Linked DNA regions of Homo sapiens. The protein of the gene in region 1 purifies or fractionates together with the protein of each later gene. This does not show direct contact. Each region holds a gene or a part of one and is shown in the gene's direction. Other genes may lie near its edges. The genes, in order: THTPA, SLC25A13, TTF2, ITIH3, SLC25A4, SLC38A10 and STK11IP.

The links.
Region 2: the proteins of THTPA (region 1) and SLC25A13 purify together in Homo sapiens (co-immunoprecipitation; one large-scale study listed by IntAct). This does not show direct contact.
Region 3: the proteins of THTPA (region 1) and TTF2 purify together in Homo sapiens (affinity purification with mass spectrometry; one large-scale study listed by BioGRID and IntAct). This does not show direct contact.
Region 4: the proteins of THTPA (region 1) and ITIH3 purify together in Homo sapiens (affinity purification with mass spectrometry; 2 studies listed by BioGRID and IntAct, with this or other methods). This does not show direct contact.
Region 5: the proteins of THTPA (region 1) and SLC25A4 purify together in Homo sapiens (affinity purification with mass spectrometry; one large-scale study listed by BioGRID and IntAct). This does not show direct contact.
Region 6: the proteins of THTPA (region 1) and SLC38A10 purify together in Homo sapiens (affinity purification with mass spectrometry; one large-scale study listed by BioGRID and IntAct). This does not show direct contact.
Region 7: the proteins of THTPA (region 1) and STK11IP purify together in Homo sapiens (affinity purification with mass spectrometry; one large-scale study listed by BioGRID and IntAct). This does not show direct contact.

Annotation. Positions count from the first base shown.
Region 1 is NC_000014.9:23,554,804-23,559,070, forward strand, and holds the start of THTPA (thiamine-triphosphatase), read left to right. Parts: upstream 1-1,467; 5' UTR 1,468-1,954; coding exon 1,955-2,501; intron 2,502-3,891; coding exon 3,892-4,037; 3' UTR 4,038-4,267. UniProt on the Homo sapiens protein: Hydrolase highly specific for thiamine triphosphate (ThTP).
Region 2 is NC_000007.14:96,315,599-96,319,098, reverse strand, and holds part of SLC25A13 (electrogenic aspartate/glutamate antiporter SLC25A13, mitochondrial), read left to right. Parts: intron 1-3,500. UniProt on the Homo sapiens protein: Mitochondrial electrogenic aspartate/glutamate antiporter that favors efflux of aspartate and entry of glutamate and proton within the mitochondria as part of the malate-aspartate shuttle.
Region 3 is NC_000001.11:117,066,826-117,070,325, forward strand, and holds part of TTF2 (transcription termination factor 2), read left to right. Parts: intron 1-3,500. UniProt on the Homo sapiens protein: DsDNA-dependent ATPase which acts as a transcription termination factor by coupling ATP hydrolysis with removal of RNA polymerase II from the DNA template. May contribute to mitotic transcription repression. May also be involved in pre-mRNA splicing.
Region 4 is NC_000003.12:52,807,047-52,809,297, forward strand, and holds the end of ITIH3 (inter-alpha-trypsin inhibitor heavy chain H3 isoform 4 preproprotein), read left to right. Parts: coding exon 1-59; intron 60-539; exon of another isoform or gene 540-676; coding exon of another isoform or gene 677-700; coding exon 701-870; exon of another isoform or gene 871-903; intron 904-1,063; coding exon 1,064-1,175; intron 1,176-1,471; exon of another isoform or gene 1,472-1,505; coding exon 1,506-1,635; 3' UTR 1,636-1,751; downstream 1,752-2,251. UniProt on the Homo sapiens protein: May act as a carrier of hyaluronan in serum or as a binding protein between hyaluronan and other matrix protein, including those on cell surfaces in tissues to regulate the localization, synthesis and degradation of hyaluronan which are essential to cells undergoing biological processes.
Region 5 is NC_000004.12:185,141,905-185,146,065, forward strand, and holds the start of SLC25A4 (ADP/ATP translocase 1), read left to right. Parts: upstream 1-1,361; 5' UTR 1,362-1,468; coding exon 1,469-1,579; intron 1,580-2,859; coding exon 2,860-3,346; intron 3,347-3,854; coding exon 3,855-3,995; intron 3,996-4,161. UniProt on the Homo sapiens protein: ADP:ATP antiporter that mediates import of ADP into the mitochondrial matrix for ATP synthesis, and export of ATP out to fuel the cell.
Region 6 is NC_000017.11:81,285,308-81,288,807, reverse strand, and holds part of SLC38A10 (solute carrier family 38 member 10), read left to right. Parts: intron 1-1,458; exon of another isoform or gene 1,459-1,463; intron 1,464-3,500. UniProt on the Homo sapiens protein: Facilitates bidirectional transport of amino acids. May act as a glutamate sensor that regulates glutamate-glutamine cycle and mTOR signaling in the brain. The transport mechanism remains to be elucidated.
Region 7 is NC_000002.12:219,596,493-219,600,656, forward strand, and holds the start of STK11IP (serine/threonine-protein kinase 11-interacting protein), read left to right. Parts: upstream 1-1,364; 5' UTR 1,365-1,431; intron 1,432-1,601; 5' UTR 1,602-1,627; coding exon 1,628-1,688; intron 1,689-4,164. UniProt on the Homo sapiens protein: May regulate STK11/LKB1 function by controlling its subcellular localization.

The DNA of each region.
Region 1 (4,267 bases):
ATCATAGGAAGGAGTCCAGGAGTTAAGAGCCACGGTTCCTCAGGGAGCTTCCTCACATGGAAGGTCAGACATATAGTTAGAGTCTCCAGATAACCATAGTCCTCAGAGGGAGTAAGAAGGAATCATCTCTATTAATATTTTGTCTCCCAAAGCATTCAAAGGGCCAACCCCCATGTTTTCCTGAATTTTATTTTTTTGGGGACAGATGGAGTCTCGTTCTGTCGCCCAGGCTGGAGTGCAGTGGCGCCATCTCAGCTCACTGCAACCTCTGCCTCCCAGGTTCAAGCAATTCTCATGCCTCAGCCTCTGGAGTAGCTGGGAACACAAGCACGCGCCACCATGCCCGGCTCATTTTTGCATTTTTAGTAGAGACGGCGGGCCGGGGGGGTTTCTCCATGTTGGCCAGGCTGGTCTCGAACTCCTGACCTCAGGTGATTCACCTGCCTCGGCTTCCCAAAGTGCTGGGATTGCAGGTGTGAGCAACCGCACCGGCCTTTCTGTATTCTAAATGAACATAAGTAGTTCTACACCTGACAAAAACTGCTTAGGGACCGCTGGAAACTCTGACAAACTCCTCAGTCTAGCACTCAAGGCTTTTCCCTCAACTGCATTTCTAGCCTCGTCTTCTCCTTACGTACCACCCAGGTGCTCTCCAGTTTCTGGGCCTTTGCTTAGGCTATTCCTGTCTCCATCTAGGTCTCCAACTGTTGAAATACCATCATATCTTTAGTTCCTGGCCAAAATACCACTTTATTCTCTGACAGAAAGTTTCTCACCCACTCTTACCCTCAACGTTCATGCCAGGAGGTATTAGATCCCCTCTAAAACTCCAGAGTAGCTAAACTGGACTTTATTACGCGCTGCCCCCGCCCCCTTCCCTCCCCCCACCCCAACCCCCCTCGCCACCATTGCCACTGGCCTGCGCTTAGCTGGCTGCTATAGCAGATATCTGTTGGACGGTGTGAATGGCTTGTATTCCAGGCCCATCTGCCTGCGTTGGGGGTGCGGCGGGGGGTGTTGGAGACGGGACTGGGGCTTGAGCTCCTTGCACCCGACTCTCCCCGCCGCCTTGTAGCCCCAGTTCAGCTTTAGGTAGAGTACCGCAGGCACCAAGTGCAGCTTTCCTGTCGCCATAGCGACGGGCGGGGCGAGATGGCAAAGTCTCCCTTTGGAACTACATCTCCCATCATGCATCCGCGCCTCGGGGTGCCTGGCTCAGCCTCAGGCATGAGACCTGTACCAGCCCCCGGGAGCCGTGCGGGGCCAACAATGAGGAGCAGAATGCAAGGGGCGGCCTCGCTCCCCTGGCCACCGCGGGGGTCGCGGCCTCCCATTACATAGCGCGTGTCTCGAGCCCTGGCCTGCTCTCGGCACCGCCACAACGGGCGTAATATGGCCGCTGGTGCCGGGACCTGCCGGGCGCGCGGAGGGTCGGGCCGAGGTCCGGGATCCGGAACTGCTCCCGGCATTCCTCGCGAGTGTATGGCGTGGGCTCCCTTCCCCCTCTGTGGGTCCCGCGAGGAGACTCTCGGGCTTTGAGGTGAGACCTGAAGTTCCGCTGGCCGGTAGTGTAGCAGGAAAGGGCAGGTCCTCCCGGGTCGTGAGCCAGTAGCCTCCTGGGGTGGCAAGGTGTAGAGAGGGGGGCGTTGAAAGGACACCCGCTACCCGGCCTGCTTTCTAGGGGTCTCTTTGGATTGAGGACATCAGCAGCAGTGGAAGGGATTTTACTGGAGACCTGTCACTGTCAGAGCCTTAAAATATCACCGACGGGGCCTTAATGTCACCGAGGTAGAGAGAAAAGGGCAGTAGCCCTAGAGACTATTGCGACACAGTGTGCCCCTCATAAGTTTTTCCAGGGAGGGGTTCTGTACTGAGTTGACGCCCCAGGAGCTGAGCACCAGGCTTTGCATCCTTGGGAACTCAGCAAACGTTTGTTCAGCCAATTGCAGGTAGCATGGCCCAGGGCTTGATTGAGGTGGAGCGAAAGTTCCTTCCAGGGCCTGGCACAGAGGAGCGGCTGCAGGAGTTGGGGGGCACCCTGGAGTACCGGGTCACCTTCCGAGACACCTACTATGACACCCCTGAGCTGAGCCTCATGCAGGCTGACCACTGGCTGCGACGACGAGAGGATAGTGGATGGGAGCTCAAATGTCCTGGAGCAGCAGGTGTCTTAGGACCCCACACGGAGTATAAGGAACTCACAGCGGAACCTACAATTGTGGCCCAACTCTGTAAGGTGCTGCGGGCTGACGGCCTGGGGGCTGGAGATGTGGCTGCTGTGCTGGGCCCACTGGGGCTGCAGGAAGTAGCTAGTTTTGTGACTAAGCGGAGTGCCTGGAAGCTGGTGCTCTTGGGAGCTGATGAAGAGGAGCCACAGCTCAGGGTGGACTTGGATACAGCCGACTTTGGCTACGCTGTGGGTGAGGTAGAGGCCCTGGTGCATGAGGAGGCTGAAGTACCAACTGCCCTAGAGAAGATCCACAGGCTCAGCAGCATGCTTGGTGAGGGAGACAGGCCCTTTTGTGCTTTTCCTGCTCCCCACTTTTCTCTTTTGGAGGCACCTGCTGGACCATGCAGTGGGGGAGGGCCTCCGGATTAAAAATTTTTTTTTTAATAGAGACAAGGTTTTGCCGTGTTGCCCAGGCTGGTCTGGAACTCCTGGACTCAAGCAATTTGCCTGCCTCGGCCTTCCAAAGTGCTGGGATTACAGGTGTGAGCCTCTGTGCCTGGCCTGGATTATTTTTGTAATGGGAATTGTTTTAGCAATTTTCTAAGTTTGCTTACAGTTCTGTGAAATCTCGTTTTCTCTTTAACAGTAGCTAATTTGGATCTAGTCCTTCCACGTGTCTAATTCCAGCCAACCTGCCTCATTTAGTTCTCATACCTATAGCCAGATCTCCTTCAGTTTCATTTCTCAGTTCCCTGCTTTGACTCTTCCTTCCCCCAATCTCTTTTTTTTCTTCTTCTTCAGTCACCACTCCTCCACAAGGAGTAAAAAGTAAGCCTTTTTACAAAAGCTGCCCTCTGGGAGGCTCAGACCCAGGATCTTCAGATCATGAGACTGATGCACTGCCCACTACACTGAGAGTCCAACCAGTCTTGTCCTTTTGTTTTACAATTACCTAGATCCTTTTAATTTGTCCTTTTGGCTTTTTGTAAAGGACAATAACATTATAGTTATGTGAGACAGTGGGGCATGATTTGGCAGATTTGTTCCTAAGCATAATTCCCTTGTAGACAGTTCATCCACACTAGGAATTGTGCATCCCATGGGGCCTTACAGCCCTGCAGTGCTGTTTGAGCCCCCTCAGCAAACATACACTGAGTTCCTTGCTATGTGCCCAGCATGCTGCCAGGCACTAACAACAAGACACTGGCAACAGGCAGTTCCATTCTCACCTCACCATGTAGAGGCGAGAATTCTATGTGAATCCCACCCCATGGCTATAGCTTCCCTCCTCTTCTTTCTATAGCTCTTGGTTTCTATGTGTACATCTCTGCATGTGCTTCATTACTAAGCTAATGAGCTTTGGCCTGGTCTAGGGCTTTAATCTTGATTGCGGAACAGGGTAATAACTGAAATGAGCTGACGCTGAGGCATCCTTCGTTTATCTTGGTGCCTGGGTGCCTCTTCGCCATTTCTCCTTGCTGGAGGAGAGAGGCTGAGGTGTGGCTTCTAGTCCCACTCTTGCCTGAAGTTGCTCTTTTAGGTCCCACTTCCACAGGCAGGCAGGGAGTGGACTAGTGTGTTACAGAAGCTGGGTGGGTGACATTCAGAACCCCAGTGTGGCTTTGGAAACATCCACGGAGTCCTGGCTAGGTGGGCAGGGAGCAGAGTCCAAGTGCTTGTGGCTCTGTCCATTTCTCTCCTCATTGTCCTTTTACCTGTAGGTGTGCCTGCACAGGAGACAGCACCAGCCAAGCTGATTGTGTATCTACAGCGTTTCCGGCCTCAAGACTATCAGCGCCTGCTAGAAGTGAACAGCTCCAGAGAGAGGCCACAGGAGACTGAAGATCCTGACCACTGCCTGGGCTAGGGGTGTCACTTCCTAGAAGGGGAAGGGAACTCTGGGTCTAACGGAGTCCACTCCTGGGCCCACTGTGCCTCTCCCCTCAGTGTCCCTTCTGACAGTGACTCCTCTCTCTCCAGCGCTGCCTGTTTCTTCCCCCTCCTCTAAGCTACTCTTCCTTGAGCCCTCCCTGGCTGCTTCCTCTCGCTCATCCGTCAGATGCAATCTGTGGGCCGCCCCTCTCCCCTGGCCGCTAA
Region 2 (3,500 bases), on another chromosome or scaffold:
CTAACTTATTCCAAGAATGTCCCTTATTGAACTGCCTTTGGGCATCACCTTTATCGGTTGATTCTGTTGGCAGCCTGAGTTAAAGGCTGTGCTCCTTGCTTTTTCCCTGGAGCATAGCTATTCCATGTTGCCAGCTGAACACAGAGCCATAGGGGTAGGGTTGGCATTCCCTCTTAAAAGTTGAGGAGCCTGGATAGGAGAGGACTTCACCTCAATGGACTGTTAGGAAATTGGGCTGAGACTCTGGGGACTCAGCAACTGTGAGAATTCCAACACTCACTACACTCACTGTGACAAATTGTTTGAATATTTAAGCAGATTTGGTATTTTCTGGATAGATGTAGCCACAACTAGCAATTAGTTTTCTGATCTGTTTCTTTCTTTGGTCTTTATACTTATTTAAATACAGCTAATTATTCATGACCTTCCTTTAAATAGTTTTAATGGGGAGATGGAGAATCTAGTCTTTGGCTGCTTTTTATTTTGAATTTTGCTATGAAGATTACTAGTTAATGGTTCAAGAAGTGTTTGTTTTCTTTCGTGAATGAACATTAATCTAAAACTCTTAGTATTCTGAGATTATCTCAAAAAGTGTCCATTCTCTTGCTGCCTACGTTTGTAGGAATAATCCTTGTGGGTTCCCTTGTTAGATCTGCCTGTACTGTTTGCGTTGTTTGAATATTTCTTTTAAACATTTCCCAAAACTGCCATAAAAAAACAGTTTTAAAAGGTGGTAATTGAGAGGTCACCCTTTTCTTCGTCTCTGCCCTTTTCTTGGTTAAAGGAGAGCTTTCTTCTTCGTCATTGGTTAAATTTATGCGTTACGAATGATGTAATTAACCTATATGAACCTACTAAAAGTTAGAATATGCTCCCTTGAGTTCAGACCTGTGAGATGTTCTGGGGTAAAACTGAACACAGACCAATATTAGCCTAGAACCAAAAGAAGGAAATTTGGGGGCACATTAAAGCATTAATAATAAAGACAATTTGGTCTGTAGGACTAGTACACTTTGTATTGACTTTTCATTCTTGGATGAGTTGTTGCTGTGATCATTGATTCATTTATGTGTATTGTGTTCTTTCCAGTGTTGCAAATGGGACAAAATTGAGAATACTAAAATGAATTGTTAGCTGGGCATGGTGGCACGCATCTGTGGTCCCGGCTACTTGGGAGGCTAAGGCAGGAGGATCACTTGAGCCCAGAAGGCAGAGGTTGCAGTGAGCTGAGATAGCACCACTGTACTCCAGCTTGGGTTACAGAACGAGATCCTGTCTCAAAAAAAAATAAAATAAAGTAAAATAAAATAATAAAATAAAATAAAATAGAATAAAATAAATAAAATGAATTGGACTCCATTTTGATGTTCAAGAAAACCAAAACCATTCCAGGGGGCTAAGTTCTCTGATGGAAATGCTCCCACTACAAGGTTTGTGGGAGCAGTAGGAGAAGAGCCCATTTCTGAGGAGATGAGGGAAGTCTTCTGAAAATTGCTAGTATTTCAGAAGGAATGGATGGGGAAGAGTAAAGATCCAATCCAGTGGTTGGAAACAAATGAAGGGCTGGGAGGTGAGAGCACAGGCTACATTTAGTTAACAGCAGGTAATAAAAACTAAAAGCAGCTGACACTTACTGAGCGCTTACTAGATACCAAATTCAGTTCCAAATGTGTTTCATTGTTGATTCATTTAAAATTCAGTTCCAACTGTGTTTCGTTGTTGATTCATTTAATGCCTCAGCCTTTTGAGTTAGTTACTATCATCCTTTTTTTATAGATGAAGGCTCTGAGATACCAAGAGGTGATGTTAGTGGCCTAAGATCTGATAAGTATGGCTGGGTACGGTGGCTCACACCTATAATCCCAGCACCTTGGGAGGCCGAGGCAGGTGAATCACCTCAGGTCAGGAATTTGAGACCAGCCTGGCCAGTCTGGCCCATCTCTACTAAAAATAGGAAACAATTAGCCGGGCATAGTGGTGCATTCTTGTAATCTCAGCTGCTCGGGAGGCTGAGGTAGGGGAATTTGCTTCAACCTGGGAGGCGGAGGTTGCAGTGAGCTGACGTCGTGCCATTGCACTCCAGCCTGGGTGACAGAGCAAGACTCTGTCTCAAAAAAATAAAATAAAATAAAAAAGATCGGATAATTAGGAAATTATCGAGCTGGGGTTCAAATCCTGCCAGTCTGGCTCCAGCAGCTGTGGCCTCACTCTGTCCACCATGTGTGCCTGGTAGTTTAGTGTGGTGGAGAATAAAGTATATGGGAGAGGTGTGGGAGATGACTTAGGAGAGGGGTAGGTGTCTCAGTGTAAACCAGACTTTTATTTGAGAACTGCCTTACCTAGTGCTTTTTGCATGCCAGGTACTTTTCCAAGAGCCTTACAAATAGTAACTCAATTAATTTTCTTAATTCTAAGAAGTAGGTGCTTTCTGTTTTTGACTTCAACTTACAGGTGAGAAAACTGAGTTAGGGGAGGTTAAGTAATTTCTCACGCTTGTGCAACAGGTAAGTGCTACAGTCTTGATTTGAACCTTGCCAATGTGTCTTCAGAGTCTCTGCTCTTAACCTCTGCGCTGCTCTCCCAGGTCTTACCAAGAGTTCCATTTGCGAAGGTGTATGTGTGAGAGTTCACATGCCATCGGGTATGGATGTGTATATTTCCTGATCATCCCAGTCCAGTAGTTCTTATCTTAGAACACCTTTGTCACTCTGTATATGCTTCATTTCAGTGTTTATTAAGTGTATTTCTCATCTCTCCAACCAGATCGCAAATCCCTGCAGGACAGGAATTGTCATATACCTTTTATTTAATTGCTTTATTGAGATATAATTCAAGTACTATACAATTTACCCATTTAAAGCATATGATTTATTGGTTTTCAATATATGCACAGAGTTGTGTAACTGTCACCACTGTCATATACCTTTAATCCAGTTTCCATTAGGATTTGGACTATAATATATATATATATATTTGGGACAGGGTCTCACTCTCTCACCCAGGTGGAAGTGCAGTGGTGTGATTATTGCTCACTCTAGCCTAGACCTCGTGGATACAAGAGATCCTCCCACCGCAGCCTCCTGAATAGCTAGGACCTCAGGCACACACCACCACACCCAGCTAATTAAAATTTTTTTTTTTTTTGTAGAGACGGGGGTCTTGCTATGTCGCCCAGGCTTTGGGCTGTATATTTAACCTCCATGTCTTCCACATTGTTCACCCATCATAAAACCCTCTTCAGAGGTTTGTCATTGAGGATAAAATATATTGAGGTTATTAAAGATATTCTTCAAATGGCAGGGTTTTTTCTCCCCTATGTAAAAACTCTACTAAGTATTTGGTGATATCATAATAAAACAAATCAGTTTTTGTGCTAGGAATGGAGGAAAGAAGGTTTGAGTTGTTTTTATGCTACCATGATGATGATTATTAAAACAAATATCTATGGCTCCACTGTTTGGGTTTTAGGGGTTCTTATCTTGTTGGAGCTGGATGGCCTT
Region 3 (3,500 bases), on another chromosome or scaffold:
CCGAGTAGCTGGGATTACAGGTGTGTGTCACGACGCCCAGCTAATTTTTGTATTTTTAGTAGACATGGGCTTTTGCCATGTTGGCCAGGCTGGTCTCAAACTCCTAGCCTCAAGTGGTCTGCCTGCCTCAGCCTCCCAGAGTACTGGGATTACAGGCATGAGCCACCTCACCTGGCCAAATTGTGTCTTATTTTCATGTGAAACCAGCTAGAAAAATGAGTGTGCAGCTCTGAAGAAAGGCCTGACTGAGGTCAGAATTTTGAGAACTTGCTGTTAACGTTCTTTGTACTAGATGGATAAGACTGAGAAGGGTTTATTATTTTAAAATAGAACAAAAAAGTATGTTACATGTATTTCTCTTAGCCTAAATTCAGAGCACTATTACTAGGAAGTACTTACTGGAGCTTTAAAAAGCTTGTCTTAGGGCCAGGCATGGTGGTTCACACCTGTAATCTCAGCATTTTGGGAGGCCAAGGCCGGCGGATCACTTGAGGCCAGGAGTTCAAGACCAGCCTGGCCATCATGGTGAAACTCTCTCTACTAAAAATACAAAAAATAGCCGGGCATGGTGGCGTGTGCCTGTAATCCCAGCTACTCAGTAGGCAGGAGAATCACTTTGAGCCGGGGAAGCGGAGGTTGCAGTGAGCCAAGATCACATCATTACACTCCAACCTGGATGACAGAGCAAGACTCAGTCTCAAAAAAAAAAAAAAAAAAAAAAAAGTTGTCTTAGGACAAATAAAAGTAAAAGGCAGTTCTTAACACACAACACATTAAAAAACAATAACAACAGAAAACCAGGTACTCTGATAGGTAGCATAGACTGGGAATTTAAACAGAAATAGATAAGTCTATATATGGATGATGGCTTCCTTAGTGAACATTAAGGGTGTTCAGCCAGAACCCCTGGAGAGTGACCTATGAGAGTACAGCCTTTCCCTCACATACTCTGGGTTTTCTTTTTAATAACTTAAATATTTTACATCCTCTAATTAATACTATTATGTTTGGCTGAATGTAGTCAGGAGACAGGTGCAACAGAGTAATAGAAGGGAGGTGTAAACTGAGGCGAAGATGCCCATTTTTCATCTCTTGCAGTGTAGCTGCATTTGTGTGCAGATCTCTAACTGAAACACCAGATGGCACCACTGACCAGCATTTGACTAGCCATTCGGCCATGGCCCTCTGTGTACAGGCAGTAAAGAAAACTGATAATCTCAGTAGAACCAGGGGGAAGAAATCTTGCCTTGACATGAACGATGTGGTACACCCTGGTATACAAATTTTGGGCATTGTCACTGAGCTCCTGAGTTCATATTTTCCTTTCTCTCTGTTTCTCACAGAACTTTCACTCAAGGATACAGGGTCAAAATAAATGGAAATATTTCTTTGCTTAGACGTGGGTATAACAAGTTTTAGTTCTTTAAATAATTGGTTGTGGTATCCTTCTGAGCAAACTATCACAAGGACAGAAAACCAAACACCGCATGTTCTTACTCATAGGTGGGAGCTTAACCATGAGAACACTTGGACATAGGGCGTGGAACATCACATACTGGGGCCTGTTGTGGGGTTGGGGGAGAGGGGAGGGATAGCATTAGGAGATATACTTAATGTAAATGACGAGTTAATGGGCGCAACACACCAACATGGCACATGCATACATGTGTAACAAACCTGCACATTGTGCACATGTACCCTAGAACTTAAAGTGTAATAAAAAAAAAAAAAAGAAAAATATTCACCTCCAAAAAAAAATTAATTGGTTGTGGTAGATGTTCAAAATATTTTACTTTTAATAACCCTTGAAACTTCACATGTCTAGAAAACTCCTCGTGTTGTTGGCTATTGGGTGAAATTGACCTGCAGATTATCTAGCCCTAGTATAGTGAGCAGGATGGTGATAGAGAGGCAACCAGGCATGCGCCAGACCCAGCCAGAACCTCAGGCCCCACCAGCTGTGAAGGACCACTGAATAAAGCCATACTTGTGAGGCGGTGTACAGTACCATGCACTGCACTGTGCAGTGCGAGCAATCCCTTTGTATAAAGTATAGTAACCCTTTGTGATATGTGTGGTAGTTACGTTTTCCCAGTTTGCTTTTTGTCTTACAATTTTGCTTATGGTATTTTCATCATATGGTAGTGTAAACTTTTAAAAATTACTAAATTCTTTATTTCTCAGCTTCAGAGTTTTATCCCAGGCTTAGAAAAGCCTTCTTCACTTTAGGACTACAAGAATATTCATATCTGTTTTTTTTCCTAGAACATTTACAATTTTGTTTTTTACTTTTACATTTTTTTCCATCTTGAAAGTTCGTGTAAAAGAATGAGGTAGACATTCGGCTTTATGTTTTTCCAGAGCTGGACCATGTAAAGATGTGAACTCATAATCCCTAAGGAGCCTTTGACACAGCTGGAATAAGAGTTAGATGTACTGAGATTGGGGTGCAGTCTCCTCTGCACATTAGAGCGCTAAATTGAAGACGTTCAGATGCGAGATGGTTCTGTGACTCTAAGACATACAGTTCAGGGCTAGGAAGGTTACAGAGAAAGTAGAGGAGTTGAGACTTGAAGTTGTCCTTGAATGACCTTGACAATTTTGATGGAGGAAAGGACAAGGAAGTGTTGAGGCAGAACAGCTTCAGCAGAAGTGTGGATGTAGGAATAAGCAGAGTGATCAGCCAGTGTGAGCTTGGCATTGCTGTTGTCTTTTAAGACCTTGGTATGTATCAGGCTTTGCTCTGATTGTATTTTGTCTTCATCATGACCGTATGAGGTATGGACTATATCATTTTGCCATTTTACAGAACAGGAAACTGCCACAGGGGGCAGTCAATTAAGGTGTCTGATGTTTCAGAACTAATTAGGTGGTAGGGCTGGGATTTGAACCAAGGGAGAATAGTTCTGGAGCCTGAGAGAACTGTAGCCTTGCTAAAGTGAATGCACTTGGCAGTGTGATGTTGAGTTGGACATTACCTTTAGGAAAATGGGAGGATTTGTGTTTTGGTGAAGAAGTCAGGATTGAAGAGGTCTGGCTTCTTCTAGCTGGTCCCTTCATCGTTATTGCCTATAACCTCTGTCCTGGAAAACAATTAATAAACATACTGCAGAAATTAATGCTTTTCTTATAGTGGAATTGATATTTGCTTTCTCTGCGAAAATATATTTCCACTGCATTCTTTGTTGATTTACAATATAATAAAACGTAACAAACAAACTTATTATCCTAAAATCAGAAAAGCTCATCCAGATTGATTTTAATTAAAAATGTAAGGGAAAGCATTTTTAGCACTGTGCCTAGCACATAGCAGATGTTCAGTGTGTTTCTTTCCTTAGTTCTGCAAATCTTGCCCTTCTCCTGAAAGTCTACATGGCATGAGTTTTAAAGTAGACACTACAGTCATGAGTCATTTAACAATGGGGGCATATTCTGAGAAATGCGTCATTAGGAGATTTCATTTTTGTGTGAACGTCACTGTGTGAACTTACACAAACCTA
Region 4 (2,251 bases), on another chromosome or scaffold:
AACAGGGCCGTGCCGAGCACTTTCAGCTGGCTGGACACAGTCACAGTCACGCAGGATGGGTAAGCTCCCCTACAAGGTCTCCAAGGTGGACTACAGGGTGAGAGTCTAAGGAGGCTCTTGAGGGATTTAGAAAAATCCCAGGACAGGAGATCCATGGGGGTCACAGGAAAGATCAGAGACCCCAGAATCCAGTCTCCTGTCACAGGGGAGGGTGACCATAGTGGCCCCCAACCAAACCCTGGGGCCCTATCAGAGCCAGAATTGGTAGCTGCACAGTTCAGCTGGTTGGGTGAAGGCATTAGGTGATAATGGCCCCCATTTGCCTCTTCTGTGGCTGCTCTTGTCTTCTTAGCTCTCCTGTCTTCAGATCCCCCAGAGCCTCCCACTGAGGCTCAGAGAAGGTGTGGAGCCTGCCCAATGTCACTCAGGAAGTCAGTGGCTTAGCTGAGGCTGGACCACAGGCCTCCAGATTCATAGGCCAGCCCTCTCTTTCCCACTTATAGACACTCAAGGATCCACTCACGGGAGGGGAGACAGTGTGCATGAGGCATCCTCTTTCCAACGCCCCTGAGATAGTTTCTGGAGTCTGTGGGCCCTCGGGTGCCATGTACAGGGGAGGCCCCACCAAAACGCCCTTGAGTCAGATGCCCAGTGTCACGGCCACTGGGCCCCACAGCCACTTTCTGGCTTCCTCTCGTAGGCTGTCCATGATGATCAACAGGAAGAACATGGTGGTCTCCTTTGGAGATGGGGTTACCTTCGTGGTCGTCCTACACCAGGTGTGGAAGAAACATCCTGTCCACCGTGACTTTCTAGGCTTCTACGTGGTGGACAGTCACCGGATGTCAGCACAGACGCATGGGCTGCTGGGTACGAAGTGTTCAGACTGCAGGCTGTTCAGGCCTGAGAGCAGCATGGGAAAGACATACACAAGGCCTTCCTAGGCACCCTGTACCCAGCTCACAACACCCCATTCAGCCTTTGCATCAACCCTGAAAGGCCAGTGGCCACGTTACCCGTGGCAATGGCCAGGGGCTGACAGCATGAATATTTTTCTTCCCAGGGCAATTCTTCCAACCCTTTGACTTTAAAGTGTCTGACATCCGGCCAGGCTCTGACCCCACAAAGCCAGATGCCACATTGGTGGTGAAGAACCATCAGCTGATTGTCACCAGGTGAGGAGACTTCTCCCACACCCTCACCTGCTCAGCAACGAGAGGAGGAAAGAGCACCTGCAGCCCAGGCACATTAGTCTGGTGGGCTTTTGTCTTCTGTGGGGTACCCTTGTTTCCCTTTGAGGTCTTGGCCCCTCCCAGGCTCTTGCTAATCAAGAAAAAGCCCAAACTTGGCTTCCTCGAAAGAGTAATCATGTAACTTCATTCTTGACCAAAGAATTCTGGGCTGTTAGAATTGCCAACTTCCCACCCTTTTTCAATCTCAGGTCCGCTAGCCTAGCAGCCATCTTACCCACCCCGTGTATTGCAGCATCTCTCTTCTTTCCCCAGGGGCTCCCAGAAAGACTACAGAAAGGATGCCAGCATCGGCACGAAGGTTGTCTGCTGGTTCGTCCACAACAACGGAGAAGGGCTGATTGATGGTGTCCACACTGACTACATTGTCCCCAACCTGTTTTGAGTAGACACACCAGCTCCTGTTGGGATGGATGGCCCGGATTTTATGGCATCTGGAACATGGGCACAGAGAGGGGCCTGTGGGAGGGGCTGGGAAAATAAAGTCCAAGGTCGAGACCAGACAGCTGCCAGCCTCTACATGCCTTCATGAGCCTCTGCTCCAGGGAACAGGCAACTGGGACCCACAGCAGCTCAAAAGAGGGGATGGCTAGCAGGAAGGCAACTTCTTGGGCCTCTCCACTGACACAGCTGAGAGACAGAGTTGGTTGGACTAGAACTTTAGGGATTCAAATGTATGACAGCTTGGGGGAAAAAATAAAGAACTGACTCTGAAGGAAAGGGGCTCTGAGAAGTCAGGAAGGGTTGAATGTATTTCAGTATCCAGGAAAGTCATAAGATAAGTAAATGGTCCCGGCTCAGGAGCTCCAATCAGGACCTTTAGAAGTAGATAATACTCCAGTGCAGATACAGCCCACATCTAAATGGGGATGTCAGCCACCCTTCCATCTATCCATCCATCTATCCACCATCCATTCACCCATCCCTCCACCCATCCATCCATTCACTCACCCACCCACCCATTCACCATTCAACCATCTGTTCACCCACGTATCCACTCA
Region 5 (4,161 bases), on another chromosome or scaffold:
CTCTGGCAGCTTTCCACTAGTTTCTAGCTTTCATTCTGCTTACCTGGATTTCGGAACTCTAGCCTGCCCCACTCTTAGATAAACGCATGCCCTCTGTGGCCCTGGAACCTTAGTGACTTCTGCTATACCAAAGTCTCCACGCCCAGGGTGACACGCAGCTGCAGCTCCGTAAACCTCTAACATGATGTCAGCAAATATTAAAAAAAAAAAGTTTATAAAACAATGAATAAACTTTGTTAAAGGTACAAATGAAAATTAGCAAACATGGGAAGATAATTGAGTGAAGAGTTTAAAGTTAAAAACGAATTGCAGTCATTCTAGGGGAAGGAACAGTTGTATTTGAAAACCTGTATGGTTACATGAACTGCCTAAAAAACAAGCTAAGGAAAATTAAAGCTCAGATTTATATATTTTAAGAAATTAATTGCAATTAATTTCCTGGGATTAAATAGCATTTCCTCAACCCCAGCTGTCATTAAAAAGAGGCAAATACAGCCAAGGACTGGATCTCCGGAAGGCTGACAGCACTGACCCTCAAGAAGGCACCGGCTGACAGACAGAACATTCTGCCCTAATATGTGCTGAAATTCCGCTGAGAGCAGAGTGGTACATTGAACCCTTTAGGGGCTTACAAAAGAAGTGTCCTGTGTTTTAGAGTCACAGAGTTTTGCAGAAACAAGTATGAATTCACCTAGTGGCCCCCTGCACCAGGTCTTTCCTGTGGGCACTGAGTGCCAGACACATCAATATGTAATAGCAGAATGAATGACTGAACGAACGATTGAATGAAAAGAAATGAGAGGCAGCAGGTTGTCAGATTCTATGAGGCAATCACAGCATCAGGTGACCTTAGTATCTATTTGAGAGGACTGCCATTTATTCTCGGGAGCGCACGGCTCTAAAGAGGCCCATATCCAGGCAGTGAGCTCTGGTGGGGGGCGCCTTTAGATGCAAGAAGGAGGAAACAGCTCGAAATCCCTGGGCCTGAGCGCGGCCCGTGCAGGCCGGAGGGTCAAGAACTCTCCACCGGCGGCAGCGGCCCGGTGTCTGCCCCGGCTTCGCCCCGGCCTAAGGCTGCCTGTGCTATAAATACGCGGCCCACATGCCGCGGTGACACGGTGTTCCCTGGGCTCGGCGGGACAGATAACATGAATGTGCCCTTTAAACGTCCCAAGTTGCAGGGACAGCCCCCGGCCCAGCCTCGCTCCCGGAAGCGCCTTCGCCCCCGATGCCCTCTGCAGCTGGGAGGAGGGGGCGCCCCGCACCTGCCCAGCCAATGCGCGGCGCGAGCGCCGGCCGCGACCCGCCTCCTCTCGCGAGAGCCCGGCGGGGATATAAGGGGGAGCTGCGGGCCAGGCGGCGGCCCCCTAGCGTCGCGCAGGGTCGGGGACTGCGCGGCGGTGCCAGGCCGGGCGTGGGCGAGAGCACGAACGGGCTGCCTGCGGGCTGAGAGCGTCGAGCTGTCACCATGGGTGATCACGCTTGGAGCTTCCTAAAGGACTTCCTGGCCGGGGGCGTCGCCGCTGCCGTCTCCAAGACCGCGGTCGCCCCCATCGAGAGGGTCAAACTGCTGCTGCAGGTGAGGACCGCGCGGTGCAAGAGGCGGGCGCGGGCGCGGCGGGCCGGGCGGGGCGCGCGATGCGGCGCGAGCTGCAGGGCGCGGGGCGCCGCGGAAAATCTGCGCCAGGCCACAGGCCCGGGCGCCCGCCCGCCCGCCCGCCCGCCCGCGGGGGAAGAAGGTGCCCTCTGCGTAGAGACAGGTCCAGCGTCAGTCGCAGATTCCTGGTGTCGGGTGGCGCCCGGCGTTCGGGTGTCTATATATGGAAACCCACCCGGAGCCGGTTTACGTGTGCCAGATCCTGCGCCCGTGACAGCACGGGCGTGCACTCAGGCCCGGAGGCACCTAGTGATTGCCAGTATTTTTGGCACCGTCTTATGCGCACGCACCTTTACAATAAAAACATCAAAATAATCATCACCCAAGAATTCCCTTATCGTATCTCATGCACAATGCTGTATGTAGGCTGACGCCTTCATCTTTATGTAACCTCTGTGAGAGAGTTATTCTTCTCCATTTTACAGATGAAGCTGAGGTTTTGAAATATTAAGAAACAATTTTCGGAATAAACTCAGATCATCCTGTCTCCAAATCTTTTCCTCCCCTACCTGGTCGCTGAATGGTTTATCATCCTCTCGTGTTTTCCTCCACCTGCCCAAAAGGTCAGGGCCCCTCAATGAGGAAGAGCCCAATTTGGGAGTCAGAATTACTAACAACAAAACCCCCACAAATTGCTCACAACGGCAGCAAACCCTTAATAATTGATTACTTGGATTATCTGCTTGAAAACTTTGGAGGCCTAATGTTTAGTGGATTTATTCTCCTTCCTCTATTAGAGCATCTAGTAGAGATCCTCATCTCCAGGGTGATCAGAGTGACACTGAGAAATTGTCATTTTTTGGCCATCATGTCTATTAAATCCAAAGCCCTTTGAAGCAGGGAGTGTTACTCATTTCTGTCCCCCAGTAAGCCCCTCATACAGTTCTCAAACCTAGGGAAAGTGAAATAAATAAATGGCTATAGCTTTATATAATTCAATCACCTTTTCAGTTTATTTGGGGCAATACCTTTTCCCTCAAATACCCTAATAATTGAAGCAACATTGGATTATTTTGGCTTGTTATCCAGTAACTAACATGGATAACAGTATCCATTTACACGTCCTCAGTATCCATTTGATTTCCTCATCCTTTTTTTCTTCAAAAAAAAAATCTAGGAAGTGCAAACCTTTTTTTTTCTCCTGTCCTCTTCCCTTCTCTCTACCCTGCCTGTCCTCTGTCACCCACCCTCCCCTCCACCAGGTCCAGCATGCCAGCAAACAGATCAGTGCTGAGAAGCAGTACAAAGGGATCATTGATTGTGTGGTGAGAATCCCTAAGGAGCAGGGCTTCCTCTCCTTCTGGAGGGGTAACCTGGCCAACGTGATCCGTTACTTCCCCACCCAAGCTCTCAACTTCGCCTTCAAGGACAAGTACAAGCAGCTCTTCTTAGGGGGTGTGGATCGGCATAAGCAGTTCTGGCGCTACTTTGCTGGTAACCTGGCGTCCGGTGGGGCCGCTGGGGCCACCTCCCTTTGCTTTGTCTACCCGCTGGACTTTGCTAGGACCAGGTTGGCTGCTGATGTGGGCAAGGGCGCCGCCCAGCGTGAGTTCCATGGTCTGGGCGACTGTATCATCAAGATCTTCAAGTCTGATGGCCTGAGGGGGCTCTACCAGGGTTTCAACGTCTCTGTCCAAGGCATCATTATCTATAGAGCTGCCTACTTCGGAGTCTATGATACTGCCAAGGGTGAGAGAGGGGCATCGGGGAGAAGGAGGGTGGTGTGGAAAGAGGATCCTATGGGATCTATAACTCACAAAGGACCTGATATATATTGATCTTGTTTTTTCTAGTCTCTGGGATAATTGAGGCTTCTGAATGAGGAGGTGATGTGCATAAGTTAATAGCTGAAGCGTTCCTTGTGTCCTCTACTGAAATAAACTCTGGCCTTTAGTTATTCAGAGAGGAGGAGGGGGGAGCCTGTCTCCCTCTAGACACAGCCATAGCAGTTACTGAGTTTAACTTGAAGCCACTTCCAATGCCCTGTATACAAGCTGAGCACTGCCCCTCCGGGGTCCGGAGAGGGCAGCAGCCACCTTTGCTGTCTGCCTGGTCATATGTGAAGCACCTGCACAGGGGCAGGTTCCCCGCAAGGTCAGAGCATGGAGCTGGAGGTGCAGTGGCCTCTCTCCCTCCACCTGCTTTCTGCTGAGAACAGGCACTTCATAGCCGTTCGGCTTCTGGGCTCTGTCCACAGGGATGCTGCCTGACCCCAAGAACGTGCACATTTTTGTGAGCTGGATGATTGCCCAGAGTGTGACGGCAGTCGCAGGGCTGGTGTCCTACCCCTTTGACACTGTTCGTCGTAGAATGATGATGCAGTCCGGCCGGAAAGGGGGTAAGCTTGTGCTCTACTCATCTAAACTTGTTTGGTTTTGCCCGAGGAGAACATTTTACAGGGCTCCTTTCAGTCTTCCTTACTGGAAATTAATTTTCAAAATTATTTGATAAGGACTTAGGGAAGAAAGATGGTATTAATTCCCCCTAACGTTCTCAACTATCCT
Region 6 (3,500 bases), on another chromosome or scaffold:
CCCCAACTCGGAATTCCATGGAGGAAGCTCCTCAGGCCTGGGCTGTTGCTGGAGTTCAGTGGCTCCTCTCCCAGTGGCTGTGTCCTTCCCCTGATGCTGTTGGTTGCAGTTTTGTTTCCCTTAGTTCTTTCTTGCTTTAATGCTGTTTCAGCCAGGAGAGAAGGCTGCGCTTTCTGCTTCATTTCAGTGTGGAATATTTTCTACGTTGTTTGTCTTCGAGGGCGCCATCCCTCACCTTCCCGTCTGCCCACAGGCTGTGTGGCCCGCGCTGTCTCCCTGCCCGCCACAGGCTCGGCACCTCTCGGCTCCACGTTCCATTCTGGGGGCATCCAGCCTGGGTGTTGAAATTCCAGCATCCGTGTTCTCAGGAGTTGGCCCTGTGGGTTTTGGTGAAAACTCTGGCCTTGTGATGAAGGCTCTGGACCTTCCAGCCAGTGTGCGGCTGGGATGTTAGGTCCTCCCTGCAGAAGGCCATCCTGCCCCCCGGGCTCACAGCTCCCGCGGCAGAGTGAGGAGGTGGCGGGAGAGGAAATGGTGTTTAGGGGTCCAGGGGGCCAAACAAAATAAAAACACCTGCACGGTCCACACGTGGGTCCTGGCCTCCCAGCCTCCACTTCCTCCCAGTCCCCTTCATGTTGCCACAGAGAGTCCTGCGTTCGTTTCGGCCCTCAGAACCGGAGGGGATGTATTCCTTCTCCTCCCTTCCTGATGAGAATGGTGCTGTCAGAGTCTTTTCTTGTTGTTATTTGAGGAAGTGAAGTTCACTGTTAAGTTTGATCCACAGTGAGATGGCCTAATGCAACTTGGGCTGAAAGATGCCTACCGGATGCCAGGAGGCACCGTGCCTGGGCGGGCCCCTTCCTGGGTCTGCAGAGCTGTGGCCTGCAGGGCGACCCTTTTCTCCTCACTGAGGTCTCTGTATAGGGTTTCTGTAGCAGAGGCCCCAACTCCAGTCCTTGGCTGTGTCCTGGAAGAAGACCGGTGACCCAGGGCTGGGGAGGCCCCCATTTCTGATAGCCAGCTGTCTATTCATTCAAAGTCCCTGAAAAGTCAAACCAGTTTGGCTACATGTGAAGGACTGGAAGAAAATTGCCGGGTGGGTGCTCTTCTGTGCTGCCTGGAACTCCTGCCTGAGCTTCCAACCTTTACCTGCATGGGGTGACCGCAGTCCACTTCTGCCTGCCAGAAACAAAAAAGATTCCAAAACACCAAGTGTGTCTCAGGTTATGCCTTTGACACCAAACACGGTGGTTCCACTGCGTGAGCTCCGGACAGAGGCCCCTGGGCCCAGCTGCTCCGCGTCAGCTGCAGTGTGCCCTGGCTCGTCTTAGAAGTGGGGAGACCCGCGCTGGGAGAGGCGTCCCTGGGGAGGGTAAGATGAGACTCTCCTGGAGCTGAGGCGAGGCCCTTGTGCAGAGTGGACAGCAGCTCCACACTGCAGTCTTCAGGAGGCGCCGGGCTGGGTCCCGTCCTCGCACACAGACTGACTTTCCCTGGGACGGCTGGGTGGTTTCCTCCGAATGGCATCTGCCCCCACCCAGGCATAGGTTTGCGGTGTAATGGTTCCTCGGGTTGGTTAGCCTGGGGAGGTGGCCGCTGATCGCTTTACCCTCCCCGCTGTCCTCCAGTGCCATGTGCCAGCCTGGAGAGGTGTCGTTTTTTGTTGGTGTTTGTATATTTCCCTGTCCTATTTGCTGTTGCTGGTTGCAGGTGGTTTTTGTCGTTTTCGTCACCTTCTCACTTGCTGCTTCCTTGCCCTGCGTGTCTTGCTTGGACATGGACTTTTCTAAATCCCCTCTTCAGAAGACACACAGATACATCAGTCATTCAGCCTCCTTCAGCTGTCGCGGCTTCTCATGAAGCTGTTCTGAGCCCCAGACCCTGCCCTGTTGAGAGTTGTGCCTGAACCCTGGCATGCGTGGTCTGGGCTAGAAACCGCCTCCCCCAGCAGCAGGGACTGTTTGGCCCCCACGCGGCCTCTGAGTTCTCGGTTGTGAGCAGCGGTGTCAGGAGTGCTGCCCGCGTCCTTTCGTTGGGTGGTCCAGGCTTCTGTGGCTCCTGTGCTGGCTCTGGGGGAGATCTGACTGCACCTGGGGTAGGGTACACCCTGCATGGAGGCCGCGCCCTCAGAGCTCGCCGCTCACAGATACCTCCAGCCTGGCAGGGGCTGGGCCCGCACTGGGAGTCCACACTCGGGGGAGGGCTGGGTCCCCGGGACCTTGCTGGGCGCTTCAGCCTCTTCCTCCCTTTCTCTGTGCCAGTCCACGCAGGATGTGAAGGAGTGGGGTCAGTCCAACTGGGGCTGGTGTTTGAACCTGGGGAGGAGAAGTTGCCGAGGGATTGACACTGGGAATGGCGGGTGAGGGTTTGGCCCAGGTGGGGAAAAGAAGGCGCGTGGGGCCGTGTCTCAGCGTGGTGGGCTCTCAGGACGTTGTCCTGGGAACCAGAAGAGAGTGCTGCCCTGATTTCCTAGACAGCCTCCCATTTTCCCTTGCCAGTGGCAGGCATATTCCGGAACCTTCTTGGGCAAGGTGCGCTCGTGTTTGGAATATGCTGTAGAGACTCAGCTTCCTTTTGGAGAATGAAAAGGCACATTATGGCCAGGAGCAACTTCATGTTTGGAGCGCCGTGTTTTGTTGCTTCCGGGCTGTGCCGTCACTGAGGGGTGTGGAGGGCGTTCCTTGGTGACAGCAGGGCCCTGGGCTGTGGGCTGCTGAGGGGGCTCCTGGAGTTCTTAGTGTTTGAAACTCTCCACAGCCTCAGGTCAGCTTCTGGGGCCTGGCTCGGGTTTCCGTGTTGTGGGATGAACTCAAGGGGTGCCAGGCTTCTTCAGCGAGCCCATAGGCAGGTCCAGGAAAGGCCAGGGTGAGCCCTGGAGGTGGGGTCTTTGCTGCTCCCGGGCTCTGGCGTTTGGCAACGCTGTGCTTCTTCCTAAGTAGTTTAAAGTAATAAGGAGTGTTTTTTGGACCCATTCATAGTTACTAGCCTGTGTGTTTCCTGCTTTCCAAAGCTCATCAGAGGCCTGTAGCCCGTGGGAGGAAGGAAACCAGGGGCAGGAAGCTGGGGCTGCCGACGGGGCTGGGCCATCCTGCCACATGCACCGCATCTCTGGGTGCGCCTTGGAGCCGGGACTTCCCTTTGCCCTTCTCCGGCTGGGCCGTGGGGGAAGCGCGGGGGTCACCAGATGACCGCTCGGGGCCTGGGAGGGACCCTGCTGAGTCAGCGCCGTTTCTCATCTGCTGCAGAGAATCCCGCGGTCAGGGCGGAGAGAATGGCGGCTCCTTCCGCATTCGGCCGCCCCGTCGGGAACGCATGCTCCTCATCGGCAAGGCTCCTCATTAGCTGTCCACGTGGACACCACAAGCCCAGGGCTCTCGTCCCCTCCCTTCCTGAAGCACCATGCTCGAAAGGAGTCTCCATTTGTTTCTATAAATCCCAACCAAAGGGTGAAAATGAAAGCCCTCCGTCAGAGTCCCTCTGGTGCAGGCTGTGGCGCTCGG
Region 7 (4,164 bases), on another chromosome or scaffold:
TGCTGGCCTCGGCCTCCCAAAGTGCTGGGATTACAGGCGTGAGCCACCGCGCCAGGCCACGGCCAGCTCTTACATAGAAAGGTGGGGGGAAGTTTAGGTTTTATGGCTGGCTTTGGGGGAGAGGGCTTCTAGTTTCTGTGACTCATCTTGGGGAAGAGGAATTCTGGTTTCTATGGCTTGCCTTGGGGAAGAAAGAAGGCTGGGAGACAGGAGGGCAGGAAAAGGTCGGAGAGACTGTGCCTGAGGCCTTCCAGTCTCTTTTAGTTCAAAATAGTCAGCATACCAAAGCGCCGTATTTTGGGGTATTGTTTTTCTGAGCTCAACACTGCTGCTTCGGATGTATCTCCACTTACTTTATTTAACCTAAAAGGCTTTCAGCTCAGAGCACAAGTAGTATGCCATGAATGCGAAATTGTGTGGTTCAAATATTCAAAATATTTGAAATATTTGCCATTTCAAATATTTTGTCTTGAGAAAATAAAATCTTTCAAATCTGGCAACTTGGGATAAAGATGACTATGATCCTATCCCTCCTTTCAACTGGCTTAGGATTCATTTTGATTTTCCTCTGTAGAAATGGGGCGCTTCATGAAAGAAACTCTCTCTGAAAACCAGGAATTCTGTTAAAAGACCTTTTTGCTAATCTAGTTCAGTAGTTGACGTTAGCATTTGACGGGGAGCCTGGTGAAAGCTACCATGAGAATTCGGAAGCAAGAAACTGGCAGTCCTGGCGCTACTGGTTACTAATTGAACGACCTTCGCAAGTAACCTAGCCTCTGTGAACCTGTTCTCATTTTCAAACGCGGTTGAATAACTACTTTTCAACTAGGATGTTATGAAAGGTAATAGGGTAAAGACAAAGGACTAGGTTCGCGTGGAGCCCAGTACTGCTGAAGGAAAGATACACGAGTTTGGAGGGAGTCTAAGGAAAAGGAGGCAAAGGACCCCGGAGGTTATATCCTCGGTGGCCTCAGCTTTTACACGATCTAAGTCCATCCTACGGCGGATACGCTCTCCTTTCACTGGAAAATGACTGTTTGCGTTGAAAAAATTTTTATCTAACAAAGCTCCATTTCTCTAAACTTTGCTTCCCCGCCCAGTTTGCAAACGAGTCAGGGTTTCCTCACCGGCGCGGTAGGCTCGCCGAAAGCCAAGCGGGAGCCCCAGGCTGCGCAGGGCGGGGGAATAATGGGTGCCCAGCTCCGGGCCAGGAAGCCCAGGGAACCACTGCAGCCACCACCGCGGTCAGGAGACAGCCCCCGCACCGCCCCTTTTCGATTCGTTTGCATGATCTACGGCGCGGTTTCCGGCGGCAGAGACATGTTTTCCGGTCGTCCCTTGGCTCGATTTTCTTCCGGGGCGGGACTTCCTTTCCATCATTGATAGGCGCCGGGCAGCTGAGCTGGTAGGAGGACCAGACGGGGAGGTTCGGTATGTCTGACCAGGACTTATGTTCCTCGAAAGGGCGGCCAGGAGGATGCTCTTCCTCTCTTTTCTTTCTCGCCTTTTTCTCCGCATGACGCCTCGGTTTGCGCGGACGCCCTGGGCTTTTGGCACTACCGCCCACCTGAGGCTCTTCCGCTTCCTCTTTCCCCCCCCAGGCTCCGCCCCCCAGCGTCCCGTGGCCATGACGACCGCTCAGAGGGACTCCCTGTTGTGGAAGCTCGCGGGGTTGCTGCGGGAGTCCGGTGAGTGGACTTCCGGTTGGGCTGGGCCTCGGACCTCGGACGAGGTGGGGGTGGTGCTTTCTGGAGACACGCCCTGAGAGTCATGGAGTTACGACTGGTAGGGTCACCAGGTGTCAGAGTTCAATTTCTTTACTTTTCCCAGGTTTGTTCGCCCTTACAGTGTCCTTTGCCTGTGATAGCCTAAACTCTAGCCGTCCTTTGAGGCCAAAGGGCGGTATCCCTCCCTCCGTGCCTTCTCTGACACTGTCAGAAGGAAGTGATCATTACCTGACTAAAAGCCCCTCAGGACCAGGGACTGATCTCGGTCATAATCATTATTGTGTAGCAAGGTACTAAATACAGTAGATAGAAGCACGAGATTTGGAGTCGGACCCACTTGGGTTGGAATATCAACCCTCTTTCAAACTTGCCATACTGTTTCCTGAGGCTCAGTTTTCCTCACAGATTGGCATAGTGATTGTACTTAACATTTGTGGGGATTCGTTTTAATTCATGTATTTAGTACAATGCCTGCAAGTATAGTAACTGCTTACAGTTGGGAGCTATTGTTATTGTAATGATTTCCCTGATGCTTGGCACTGTGCCTGGGCATAATGGAGCCACAGTAGTTGTTGAATACTTGGTTGGCATTAGTTGTGGTAGAAAAAGCCTTGGCTTTGAGATCAGATAGGAGAAGTAACTTCCTACCAATTATATGATCTCCATCAAGATTTTTCACTTTTTTGAACCTCAATTTTCATATCTGTAAGATGGGGTTAATAGTGCTTCTCTTTGAGAGATTCTGAGAAGGTTTGAATGAGATACCAAAGTCATCTGGTACATACTACAGTTAATGTTAGCTGTCCTCCATCACTCCATGCTCCTATTGACGATATCTGTGGAAGCTCTCTTTATAGCAGTTTTCTTTTCTTTCTTTTCTTTTTTTTGAGACAGAGTCTTGCTGTGTCACCCAGGCTGGAGTGCAGTGGCGCAATCTCAGCTCACTGCAACCTCCACCTCCTGGGACGAAGTGATTCTCCTGCCTCAGCCTCCTGAGTAGCTGGGACTACAGGTGTGCACCACCATGACCGGCTAATTTTTGTATTTTTAGTAGAGACGGGGTTTCACCATGTTGGCCAGGTTGGTCTTGAACTCCTGACCTCAAGTGATTAACCTGCCTTGGCCTCCCAAAGTGCTAGGATTAAAGTCGTGAGCCACAGCACCTGGCCAGTAGCAGTTTCATTTCCTGGCTTGTATTGATAACTTTGCAAATGTCTTATATCCTTCTCTGGGAGGAGACAACTAGGAGGCCCTTTGAACGTGGGAAGAGTCCTTGAACCATGTCTGTATCTATCCTCAGTGTCTAGTACATACAGAATCCTTCATGTCAGGTTGTAGGACTTGTTAATTTATTCAGTGATGAATGGTGGGTGTGTGAATGTGTGACTACAAGGAGGTAGCAGGAGAAGAGCTTTGTGGCAGCAGAATAGTTTTGTATCTTGATTGCGTGGCTGCAGGAATTTATATAAACAGCATATAGCTATATATACATATTGTACCAACATCAGTGTCCTGAATTTTTTTTTTTTTTTGAGATGGAGTCTCGCTCTGTCACCCAGGCTGGAGTGCAGTGGTATGATCTCGGCTCACTGCAACCCCTGCCTCCCTCCCAGGTTGAAGTGATTCTTCTGCCTCAGCCTCCCGAGTAGCTGGGACTACAGGCATGCACCACCATGCCCTACTAATTTTTGTATTTTTAGTAGAGACGGGGTTTCACCATATTGGCCAGGCTGGTCTTTAACTCCGGACCTCGTGATCCACCCGCCTTGGCCTCCCAAAGTGCTGGGATTACAGGCGTGAGCCACCACGCCTGCCCTTTGTGTTTTTTTTTTTGTTTTTGTTTTTTTTTTTTTTTTTTTTTGAGATGGAGTCTACCTCTGTCACCCAGGCTGGAGTGCAATGGCTCAATTTCGGCTCACTGCAACCTCTGCCTCCTGGCTTCCAGCTGTTCTCTGGCCTCAGCCCCTCGAGTAGCTGGGATTACAGGCGCATGTCGCAATGCCCAGCTGAGAATATTTGTATTTTTAGTAGAGACGAGGTTAGAGTCGTAGAATAATTTTTTGTGTTTTTAGTGGAGACGGGGTTTCACCATGTTGGCCAGGTTGGTCCTGAACTCCTGACCTCAAGTGCCTTGCTCCCAAAGTGCTGGGATTACAGGCCTGAGCCACGGCAACCAGCTCAGTGTCCTGACTTTGATATTGTACTATAGCTATATAAAATGTAACCATTAGGGAAAACTGGGTAAAGGATACAGGGGACCTTTCTGTATTATTTCTGCAGCATTCTTTGACTCCATACTTATTATATTTTTTAAGCCAAAAAAGCATTCCTTCATGCCTAGCTTGTAGCTGCACTTTTTTAGGTGCAGTGATGAATACCAGAGTGATCAAAAGATGCCCTCAAGGATGAAAGTCTCATTAGAGAGAGCAGTTTTAAC